3 linked regions of the Homo sapiens genome follow. The protein of the gene in region 1 interacts with the protein of each later gene in a biochemical or structural test. Each region holds a gene or a part of one and is shown on either strand. Other genes may lie near its edges. The genes, in order: MAPT, CSNK1A1 and UBE2W.

What was found.
Region 2: of the proteins of MAPT (region 1) and CSNK1A1, one has a biochemical effect on the other in vitro, tested with the Homo sapiens proteins (2 studies listed by BioGRID).
Region 3: the proteins of MAPT (region 1) and UBE2W are reported together in a solved structure, tested with the Homo sapiens proteins (2 studies listed by BioGRID, with this or other methods).

Annotation. Positions count from the first base shown.
Region 1 is NC_000017.11:45,981,440-45,985,090, forward strand, and holds part of MAPT (microtubule-associated protein tau), read left to right. Parts: intron 1-1,426; coding exon 1,427-2,491; intron 2,492-3,651. UniProt on the Homo sapiens protein: Promotes microtubule assembly and stability, and might be involved in the establishment and maintenance of neuronal polarity.
Region 2 is NC_000005.10:149,544,791-149,548,441, reverse strand, and holds part of CSNK1A1 (casein kinase I isoform alpha), read left to right. Parts: intron 1-2,597; exon of another isoform or gene 2,598-3,172; intron 3,173-3,651.
Region 3 is NC_000008.11:73,823,325-73,826,975, reverse strand, and holds part of UBE2W (ubiquitin-conjugating enzyme E2 W), read left to right. Parts: intron 1-1,726; coding exon 1,727-1,829; intron 1,830-3,651. UniProt on the Homo sapiens protein: Accepts ubiquitin from the E1 complex and catalyzes its covalent attachment to other proteins.

The sequences.
Region 1 (3,651 bases):
TTGGTGTGCAGCAAGCTGTGTGACCAGGGGACAGCAGTGGTCCTGAGGGCCGTCACTGTCTGCCGTGCAGAGCCCTTCCTCCCACGGGGGCCTACCTCACCTGTGCCAAGGGCTTGTCTGTGGTCAGTGACCTGGATAGATCTGAATGGGGCTTCTTTTTCGAGGAGTCTTATGGCAGGTCTCTCAGTAAAGACTCCATTCTTGATGATCACACATTTTGGATTTTCCAAATCTGTCAGAGAATGGGCTTGAGGCGGGGTTTGTGGGCACTAGTTTCACTGGTTTCATTTACCAAAAAGGGGAGCAGAAGTCAAGTATGGTGGCTCATCCCTGTAATCCCAGAGGCAAGAGAATTGCTTGAGCCCAGGAGTTCGAGACCAGCCTGAGCAACATAAGGAGACCCCGTCTCCACAAAAATGAAAAATAACATTTTAGTCAGACGTGGTGGCATGCATCTGTGGTCCCAGCTGCTTGGGAGGGTGAGATGGGAGGGTTGTTTGAGCCCTGGAGTTAAAGTTGCAATGAGCTGTGATTGCACCACTGCACTCTAGCCTGGGTGACAGAACGAGACCCTGTCTCAAAAAAAAAAAAAAAGAAAGAAAGAAAGGAAAAAAAAAACTCATGCCTGTAATCCCAGCACTTTGGGGACCGGGGTGGGCAGATCACGAGGTCAGGAGATCAAGACTATCCTGGCCAACATGGTGAAACCCCGTTTCTACTAAAAATACAAAAATTAGCCAGGTGTGGTGGCACGTGCCTGTAATCCCAGTTACTCGGGAGGCTGAGGCAGGAGAATCGCTTGAACCAGGGAGTCAGAGGTTGCAGTGAGCTGAGATCGTGCCACTGTACTCCAGCCTGGGCGACAGAGTGAGACTCTGTCTCAAACCAAAAAAAAGGGGTGGGGGGCGGGGGCAGGAGAACAGTGAGAGGTAGGGAGAGGAAAGGGGATTCTCGCTACACCCAAACCAGATACCATCTAGAGGCTAGAATCTTTGGGAGGCTCAAATTCCCTAGAAAGCAGGAGAAGCTTCTGTAGCCCTCCCGCTTTCCCAGTAGATTAAGCCCAGGGCGGCTCCAGATGTGTGACATGCTCTGTGCCCAACCAGAGCCCATCATAGGCAGAGGAATAACACCCACACCAGAAGGGCCCTCGGAGGTCACCACGTCCAAGAACCCTCTTTACAGATGAGGAAACTGAGGCCCAGAGAGGGGAGAGCCACCTAGCGAGCTGGTGGCGGCTAGACCAGGAGAGCTGTCATTCCAAGCAAGCAAAGGCAACGAGACGAGCCCAGAGCTGTGCTCCCATCTCTTTGTTAGGGGGCCTGGGATGCCCTCTCAGTGTCATTTTGTCCAGGATGATGCTCCCTCTCTTAAGCGATTAATGCGCCCTTGCTAACCTTTTGCTATCGCTGCCTCTTCAAACCAGAGGAGTTGAGAGTTCCGGGCCGGCAGAGGAAGGCGCCTGAAAGGCCCCTGGCCAATGAGATTAGCGCCCACGTCCAGCCTGGACCCTGCGGAGAGGCCTCTGGGGTCTCTGGGCCGTGCCTCGGGGAGAAAGAGCCAGAAGCTCCCGTCCCGCTGACCGCGAGCCTTCCTCAGCACCGTCCCGTTTGCCCAGCGCCTCCTCCAACAGGAGGCCCTCAGGAGCCCTCCCTGGAGTGGGGACAAAAAGGCGGGGACTGGGCCGAGAAGGGTCCGGCCTTTCCGAAGCCCGCCACCACTGCGTATCTCCACACAGAGCCTGAAAGTGGTAAGGTGGTCCAGGAAGGCTTCCTCCGAGAGCCAGGCCCCCCAGGTCTGAGCCACCAGCTCATGTCCGGCATGCCTGGGGCTCCCCTCCTGCCTGAGGGCCCCAGAGAGGCCACACGCCAACCTTCGGGGACAGGACCTGAGGACACAGAGGGCGGCCGCCACGCCCCTGAGCTGCTCAAGCACCAGCTTCTAGGAGACCTGCACCAGGAGGGGCCGCCGCTGAAGGGGGCAGGGGGCAAAGAGAGGCCGGGGAGCAAGGAGGAGGTGGATGAAGACCGCGACGTCGATGAGTCCTCCCCCCAAGACTCCCCTCCCTCCAAGGCCTCCCCAGCCCAAGATGGGCGGCCTCCCCAGACAGCCGCCAGAGAAGCCACCAGCATCCCAGGCTTCCCAGCGGAGGGTGCCATCCCCCTCCCTGTGGATTTCCTCTCCAAAGTTTCCACAGAGATCCCAGCCTCAGAGCCCGACGGGCCCAGTGTAGGGCGGGCCAAAGGGCAGGATGCCCCCCTGGAGTTCACGTTTCACGTGGAAATCACACCCAACGTGCAGAAGGAGCAGGCGCACTCGGAGGAGCATTTGGGAAGGGCTGCATTTCCAGGGGCCCCTGGAGAGGGGCCAGAGGCCCGGGGCCCCTCTTTGGGAGAGGACACAAAAGAGGCTGACCTTCCAGAGCCCTCTGAAAAGCAGCCTGCTGCTGCTCCGCGGGGGAAGCCCGTCAGCCGGGTCCCTCAACTCAAAGGTCTGTGTCTTGAGCTTCTTCGCTCCTTCCCTGGGGACCTCCCAGGCCTCCCAGGCTGCGGGCACTGCCACTGAGCTTCCAGGCCTCCCGACTCCTGCTGCTTCTGACGTTCCTAGGACGCCACTAAATCGACACCTGGGTGCAGCTGCTCCACTCCCTCGGCCTCCTCCCGTGCTCAGGCTGTGGCCGCACGCGCCCCTCACGCTTGCCCGCCACTCTGCATGTCACCAGCACCCCCGCTCCGTGCTACCCACCTTGTTTGACTCTCTGGCCACTTGATTTGTCCACAACGGCCCATCAGCCCACAGGAGGTTTGGTGGGTGCCTTCCACCGACAGGATGACGGGTGCCCTCATGGTGTCTAGAACTCTCCAACCCTCCCATGTAGGCATAAGCAGCCCCACTTTGCAGATGAGGAAACGGAGGCTCAGAGAAGTACAGTAACTTGCCGAAGGCCAATGAGTAGTAAGTGACAGAGCCAGGTTTGGGATCCAGGTAGGTTGTCTCTGAAAGACACGCCTGTCCTGCATCCCACAACGCCTCCCAGGAGGTGCTGGAGTGTGGACGCCTAACACAGAGATGTGCAGGGCACACACAGCAGGTGACACACACAGCATCCAGAGGTGGCCCAGAGCTCATGCTGTGCCTTTGGCCCAGTGCCCTGCCCCCACCCACTCTGCCTTGTGGCAGGAAGACAAGGAGCAGACACAAGATCTCCCTGGTCCACATGCCACCACCTCCCTCTGCAGAGGACAAGGGGATCCTCATGCTGGCATTGGAGGGGGTTGAGCAGGGCCCACCTTGAGCCCTCAGGAGCACGACCACAGCAGCCCTGCAGGGAGGGATTGGTGGGAGGAGAGTCCCAAGTATCAGGGAGAGGAGAGTTGGTGTCCCACAGGAGACCTCAGAGCCACAAGGCGAGCTTGTTCATAAATTTGGGACCCTTAGCATTTCACAGTTATTTGCAGAGCCCAGAAATGGATGTTACTGAAGCTCACAGTTGCAAGCATCTGTTAAATTTTTATTAGATTTTACTTTTAGGGAAAACTTTGAAATGCTATAAAGAAGCCTGTGTTTAAAAGTTAAGACAGAGGCTGGGGGCGATGGCTCACGCCTGTAATCTCAGCACTTTGGGAGGCCAAGGCAGGTGGATCATTTGAG
Region 2 (3,651 bases), on another chromosome or scaffold:
AGCTGCACTACTACGCCTGGCTAATTTTTGTATTTTTAGTAGAGCTGAGGTTTTGCCGTGTTGGCCAGGCTGGTCTCCACCTCCTGACCTCAGGTGATCCACCTGCCTCAGCCTCCCAAAGTGCTGGGATTATAGGCGTGAGCCACCGGGCCCAGCCTGTTAGCCCCTTTTTCTATTCCAGTTTGTATTTTTCATGTCTTGAATTAAGGACTGGGTTGCATAGTCTTTACATGGAAACAACTCAAATAAAACTGTCCTTAAAAAGAGTTCCAGCCAGGCGTGGTGGCTCACGCCTGTAATCCAAGCACTTTGGGAGGCCAAGGCAGGCAGGTTACTTTAAGTCAGGAGTTCAACACCAGCCTGGCCAACGTGGTGAAACCTCGTCTCTACTAAAAATACAAAAATTAGCTGAGCATGGTGGCACGTGCCTGTAATCCCAGCTACTCGGGAGGCTGAAGCAGGAGAATAGCTTGAACCCGGGAGTCGGAGGTTGCAGTAAGCTGAGATGGCGCCACTGCACTCCAGCCTGGTGACAGAGCGAGACGCCATCTCAAAAAAACACAAAAAAACACAACAAAAAAAAAAACAAAGTTCCAATGCTGATTTACAGTTTTAATGGAGAATTGAGTGATAAAATGTGCTATTGGTTGTAAATGAGCAAGTAAATCATTTGGAAGAAAGTTGCAAATTTATCTTATGAGGTGAAGATTAAATCTGAGATGATATAGATTTGAAGTTTTTAAATCATTCTTGCCTTTAAAAAAAAAACCTACTATGTGGGAAAATAAGGCCCCTCACCCCTGATTTGCTTTCCATTACTATAGTTTTTCCTAGAATTTCATATAAATGGAATCATACGATATGAGGTCATTTGTGTCTGGCACTTTTCACTTAACATAATGTTTTTGAGATTCATCTATGTTGGGAGATTTTATAAATTTCACAAATCAGGTTAAATTTAATGTATTTGAAATCAGTTTCAAAAAGCATTAAGCATTGTCATTTTTCAGTGCTAAACCCAAGTACAGTACATGTCCTTTTATCTGGTAGCTTTTATTTAAGACCTGATACAGACCCATAAGGGCAATGAGTAATGTACTGAATAAGCACATGAATAAATTAACTTCTGAGCAGAATTATAGTAATAGGTGCCTATTATAAGGTGGTGAGTGCAGAGAGAGTTATGGTAGTTATAAGCTGTCTGTGGGTGAGGCTAAACAGATTAACCTGACTTTCAAGTTAAGGCTTCCTGAGAGATGGGATTTCAGGATCTGGCTCTAAGGAAGAAAGCTTGGTGAACTGGTTTGGTAAGGCATCCAAGAATAGAGTGTGGCTTCTGGGTGTAGTCTCTAAAGGAGAACACAGTAATTGGATGAGAGTGTGGAAAGGGTAAATTTGCTTTAGGAGTGGTAGGGTCAGGTACATGGAAACAAAAGTGGTTCATTGGTTTTAAAGTGAAATGTAAAAAAAAAACTGTTTCCACTGAAGCAAAAAGGATAAAGATTTATGTAAACATTCTTTATTTGGGTAGCAGCATCTTCCCATCCCCCTCAGTTTGTTCCCCACTATTTCTGTATCACCTATACATGGTACATACTTAATAAATATTTACTCGGAAAGTATTGAATTAAGTTGACTATTTAGTGTTAGCTAGATAAAAGTTATGTGTTATCTATTGTTTTAGAAGTATTGTCACTAATTTAAAAAATTTAGATTTTGCTGCCTTTATCCTTCATATACAAATTTGTTCAATCCCTTCCCTATGTTTTCTGTTACAAAATTCCCTATAGGATTTGCTTTTTTTTTTTTTGACATGGAGTCTCACTCTGTTACCAGGCTGGAGTGCAGTGGTACAGTCTTGGCTCACTGCAGCCTCCACCTCCTGGGTTCAAGCAATTCTCCTGCCTTAGCCTCCTGAGTAGCTGGGACTACAGGCACGTGCTGCCACGCCCAGCTAATTTTTGTATTTTTAATAGAGATGGGGCTTTACCATTTTGGCCAGGATGGTCTCCATCTCTTGACCTCGTGATCTGCTCGCCTCGGCCTCTCAAAGTGCTTGGATTACAGGCATGAGCCACCGCACCCAGCCAGGATTTTCTTTAAGATACTTTGGTATATCTTACAACAGAGACTGAAAATTACCTGGCCTGCGTAGATGACCTGCTGAATCAGGTCCTTCCTGTGTAATTTGAGAGACCTATTGTTAAGAAGCATAGCATCCTGAGTAAAGAGCAAGGATAAGCCGGGCGCCATGGCTCACGCCTGTAATCCCAGCACTTTGGGAGGCCGAGGTGGGCAGATTGCCTGAGCCCAGGAGTTGGAGACCAGCCTGGGTAGTAGAGACAGGTGAAACCCTGTCTCTACTAAAATACAAAAAAAAAAAAAATTAGCCTGGTGTGGTGGCGTGCGCCTGTAGTGCCAGCTACTCAGGAGGCTGAGGCAGGAGAATTGCTTGAACATGGGAGGCGGAGGTTGCAGTGAGCCAAGATCGTGCCACTGCACTCCAGCCTGGGCGACAGAATGAGGCTCCGTATCAAAAAAAAAAAAGCAAGGATAAGAGAATGGCATCCATTTTCTTGATATTTTAAGAAATGAAGCTTCCGGTTCTAGGCACTTGGAGAGCCGCGGCTTAAGGTACAGACATGGCCAAGTCCACGAACCACACCACACACAACCAGTCCTGAAAATGGCACAGAAATGGTGGGCTCCAGGTTCCTGAGGAACATGCACTTTGCCAAGAAGCACAAGAAGGGCCTAAAGAAGATGCAGGCCAACAATGCCAAGGCAATGAGTGCACTTGCTGAGGCTAGCAGGGCCCTCGTAAAGCCCAAGGAGGTTAAGCCCAAGATCCCAAAGGGTGTCAGCTGCGAACTCGATTGACTTGCCTACATTGTCCACCCCAAGCTTGGGAAGTGTGCTTGTGTCCGCATTGCCAAGGGGCTCAGACTGTGTGGGCCAAAGGCCAAGGATCAACCAAGGCCCAGGCTGCAGCTCCAGCTTCAGTTCCAGCTCAGGCTCCTCCCAAAGGCTCTCAGGCCCCTACAAAGGCTTCGGAGTAGGTATCTCTGTCTGCCAACGTGAGGACAGAAGGACTGATGCAACCCCCCTGGGCTGCCGTCTTTATGGGGCTGGGGTCCTCCTGTGCTATTAGTACAAATAAACCTGAGGCAGGGGAAAAAAAAAGAAAGAAAATTCTTGGACCTTGTCAATTAATATGTGAGAGCTCACTTAAAATTACAGTTGACCCTTGAACAGTGCTGGGGTTAGGGGCACTGAACCCCAGCCCACTCCCACTGTGCCCCACAGTCAGGAATCCAAGTGTAACTTTTTTTTTTTTTTTGAGATGGAGTCTTGCTCTGTCACCCAGGCTGGAGTGCAATGGTGTGATCTTGGCTCACTGCAACCTCTGCCTCCCAGGTTCATGGGATTACAGGCGCGCCGCCACACCCAGCTAATTTTTGTATTTTTAGTAGAGACGGGGTTTCACAGTGATGGCCAGGCTAGTCTCAAACTCCTGACCTCAGATGATCCACCCACCTCGGCCCGCCAAAGTGCTGGGATTACAGGCATGGACCACTGCACCTGGCCCCAAGTATAACTTGACTCCCCAAAAGCTTAACTACTACTAGCCTACTGTTCACTGGAAGCTTC
Region 3 (3,651 bases), on another chromosome or scaffold:
ATAAGAAAGGAATTTCGAAGATTAAGAAGGACCTAATATATAAAGAGATAGTTTTTTGTTTTGTATGCAGCTTTTGCATTGCATTTAATTTACCATGTATTGACTGAGTCAGGAATGTGCTAGGTTTTTTACGTATGTAGGGTCATTTATCTTTCCAACAACACTATGAGGTGATTATCTTCTGTTTTATTATTGAGGTAGTTAAAACTGGAGAGATAACATAACTTGTTCACACAATGAGTTAAGATTAACTATAACTGCGACTTCAGTATAACTTCAGTTATAACTGTCTAATTTCACTATAAAATATTGTCTCTTGGGTCTGTGGTCGTATCTTTTATTACCATGTATGGTACTCAGCGTGCATTCTTAAAATGAATAGCCATGCTCTTAAGAGTCTGTATACTGTAGCTGATTTCTTTTAGAGAATAGGTACATTTATTATTTTACATAATCCAAGGTTCATAGTATGCGTGGTGATGACTAGAATCCCAACACTGTATTTTCTATCTTCCTTTTGTTTTCTTGTATTTTAAATACAAGAAAGTTTAATAACTGAAAAGTTCAAGAGAATTGCCCAGGTGTACAAGAATTATAAGTGACAGAGCTATAATTAGGAACACATTGTTAATGACTTCAATTCACTTTTGCTTCTAATGCTGCCCTGTTATCTTTGCTGTCATTATCCCTTATTCTTCCCATCTTAAAGAAAATAACAAGAATAGTATATAAACTGTAAATAACACATTTATGTTTATGATTGTTATATATGAAAACAAAGGCTTGCATAGATGGCATAGAAATGGGCTTTATTAAACAATTGAAACATAGTGAGAGATAAAGGAAAGTCACCACAAAGCCTTGCTTAATCATCAGAGTAAGTGGACTGATGTCAATTTAGCTCCCCTTGCCCTGTTAATCTTCTCTAGGATGTTGATGAAAAAAATAAGTCTGACAGCTACGGTTCTCTGTGGTCATTGTCTATACGTATTTCTCCATGGCTTCCACCAGTAATAATCAGAGGCAGTTGCTTTGTTTGATGTTATGTATAGAATACGTAATATCAGCATTGTAGAAATGGTACTTTGAAAAAATAAGGTAGTATAAATCAATTAGGAGGAGCACAGGCTTTGGTGTCAGTGCACCTTAGTTTGAGGTCTGTTTGTTTGTTTATTTTGAGACAGTCTTGCCCTGTAGCCCAGGCTGGAGTGCAGTGGCATGATCTTGGCTCACTGCAACCTCTGCCTCCCGGGTTCAAGCGATTCTCCTGCCTCAGCCTCCTGAGTAGCTGGGATTACAGGTGCACACCACCATGCCCGGCTAATTTTTGTATTTTTAGTAGAGACCGGTTTCACCATGTTGGTCAGGCTGGTCTTAAACTCCTGACCTCGTGATCTGCCTGTCTTGGCCTCCCAAAGTTCTGGGATTACAGGTGTGAGCCACCACACCCGGCCTTGGGTTTTATTTAGTTTGCTTTTTTAGACCTGGCTCTGTCTTTTGCTAGCTGTCTGACCTTGATCTGGTTATTTCACCGCTGAGTGTCAGAGAAGGGGATAGGTCATGAGAATTAACAGTAAGAGAGTTATTGGGAGGCTGGCATGTGCTGTTACACATAACCAACTCTTGTCCTAGTGCTTAGTGTATAGGAAGTACTTGGTGTCCTCTTTTCTCCTCCTTACCCCAGTCTCTATTATCTTAAGTTTTTAATTTGCCTTTTCTATTCTAGGTGGATTGTAGACATGGAAGGTGCACCAGGTACCTTATATGAAGGGGAAAAATTTCAACTTCTATTTAAATTTAGTAGTCGATATCCTTTTGACTCTCCTCAGGTAATTGCCTTGCTTTAAATTTTTTTTTTTGTATTTTTAGATAGCTAAATGCCAGAGATGTTTGACTCAGTAAAAACATATAAATCAGTTATACGTATGTAGATGGATTTGTTATTTCATTATCTTATTTGTCATATAATCAAGATATGAACATTACACTTTATTGGGATTAGGGCTTTACTGCATTTTGCTTCTAAAATTGTTTCATTTGTTGCTTATCCATAAATGCTAACAGAAAAGGGAATAGAAATCTAACCAGGCCTCTAGGCCAGGGGTCCCCAACCCCCATGCTGTGGACTAGTACTGGTCCATGGCCTGTTAGGAGTCGGGCCACACAGGAGGTGAGCAGCATTACTGCCTGAGCTCTGCCTCCTGTCAGATCAGCGATGGCATTAGATTCTCATAGGAGTACGAGCCTTATTGTGAACTGCACATGTGAGGGATCTAGATAGCACGCTCTTTATGAGAATCTAATGCCTGATGATCTGAGATGGAACAGTTCCATCCCAAAACCATCATCCAATCCCCAACCCCATCCATGGAAAAATTGTCTTCCATCACACCGGTCCCTTGTGTCAAAAAGATTGGGGACCACTGCTCTAGGCCATCGGAGAAGTTGACATTTTGGAATAACTGGAGGCACTTCTCCTAGGTCAGATGGTAGAATCACATGGTGAAGAGAAAAGTTCTCTGTTGGAAGGAGTACTATGATTTTGCATTGACATGCTGTCCTTGCAGCCTTTTAGTACAGGAAGGGCAGAGTACATCATCAGATGTTAAATATCTAAACATCAGCACAAAGTCTGATTATTATAATTTGATGCCCAGTGAGTTTAGTTAATAGCTTAATACTTAGACAAGGGATAATGGTGGTAGAGAAATGTTTTTTGAGAGCTATTTAACTATAGTAAATGATTAATCAGGTTAGAGAAAGGAAGACTCTAGGATGACTTCCAGGTTTCTGGCTTGGTAAGATAAGTAAATGAGTTACTATAATTACTTATTCTTCAGAGAATTATAACAAAGCACTTCATTTTTAAAATTTGAGGCTTGTGAGATCCGTTGGCTAAAATGGTAAGACATGATGCCAGCTCTCTCTAGTATTGCTAGCAAATGAGCTATTCTGGAAAATACAACCAAATACCTGAAATATTTCCCAGATACTGAAAATTTTGCTTGTTGGGTGCTGAAATGTACTATTTGGAGGAAAATCATATTTCATTGTCACTTTAAACAATATACCAAACACAGCTTAATCTTTTCTTAGTTATGTAAGAGAAGAGATAAAGTCAGTTATTGTATCATGCTATAAGTAAAGAGATAATTGTTTTAAAGCATAGATTTAAATGGATACTGACTCCTTAAGTTCTAAAATTTTCATATGAGCAGAAAACTACCAAGACTTTTAGGACTTATTTTTATCATTTTCATAAAAGTTAAAGTGAAAGGGTATGTGCTATTGTGACCTCTAGATGTCTACAATAAGCATTTGTAGACTATAATAAAAAGAACAAACATCTTCTCTCCAGAAGATTGTCATCACTTTTGTTGCTTTCTGGCTGGCCAGCATCATTTCTGACTGTAAATGTGTGGAGACAACAGGATCTCAGTCTGTTTTCATCATCAGCCTATTTGTCTACCTTCAACTAAGTTCAATGATGGTATGGGAAGGAAGAATATTTCACACCAATTCAAAAGCTTTTGACTAGGGAGATATTGGGGGAAGGCTTACTCTGGGAGCTTACAGATTTTTCACCAGAGGAAAATAATATTTCTGTAAGCATGAAACCAAGTCAAAAATGTGTTCTCTAAACTCTTTCCT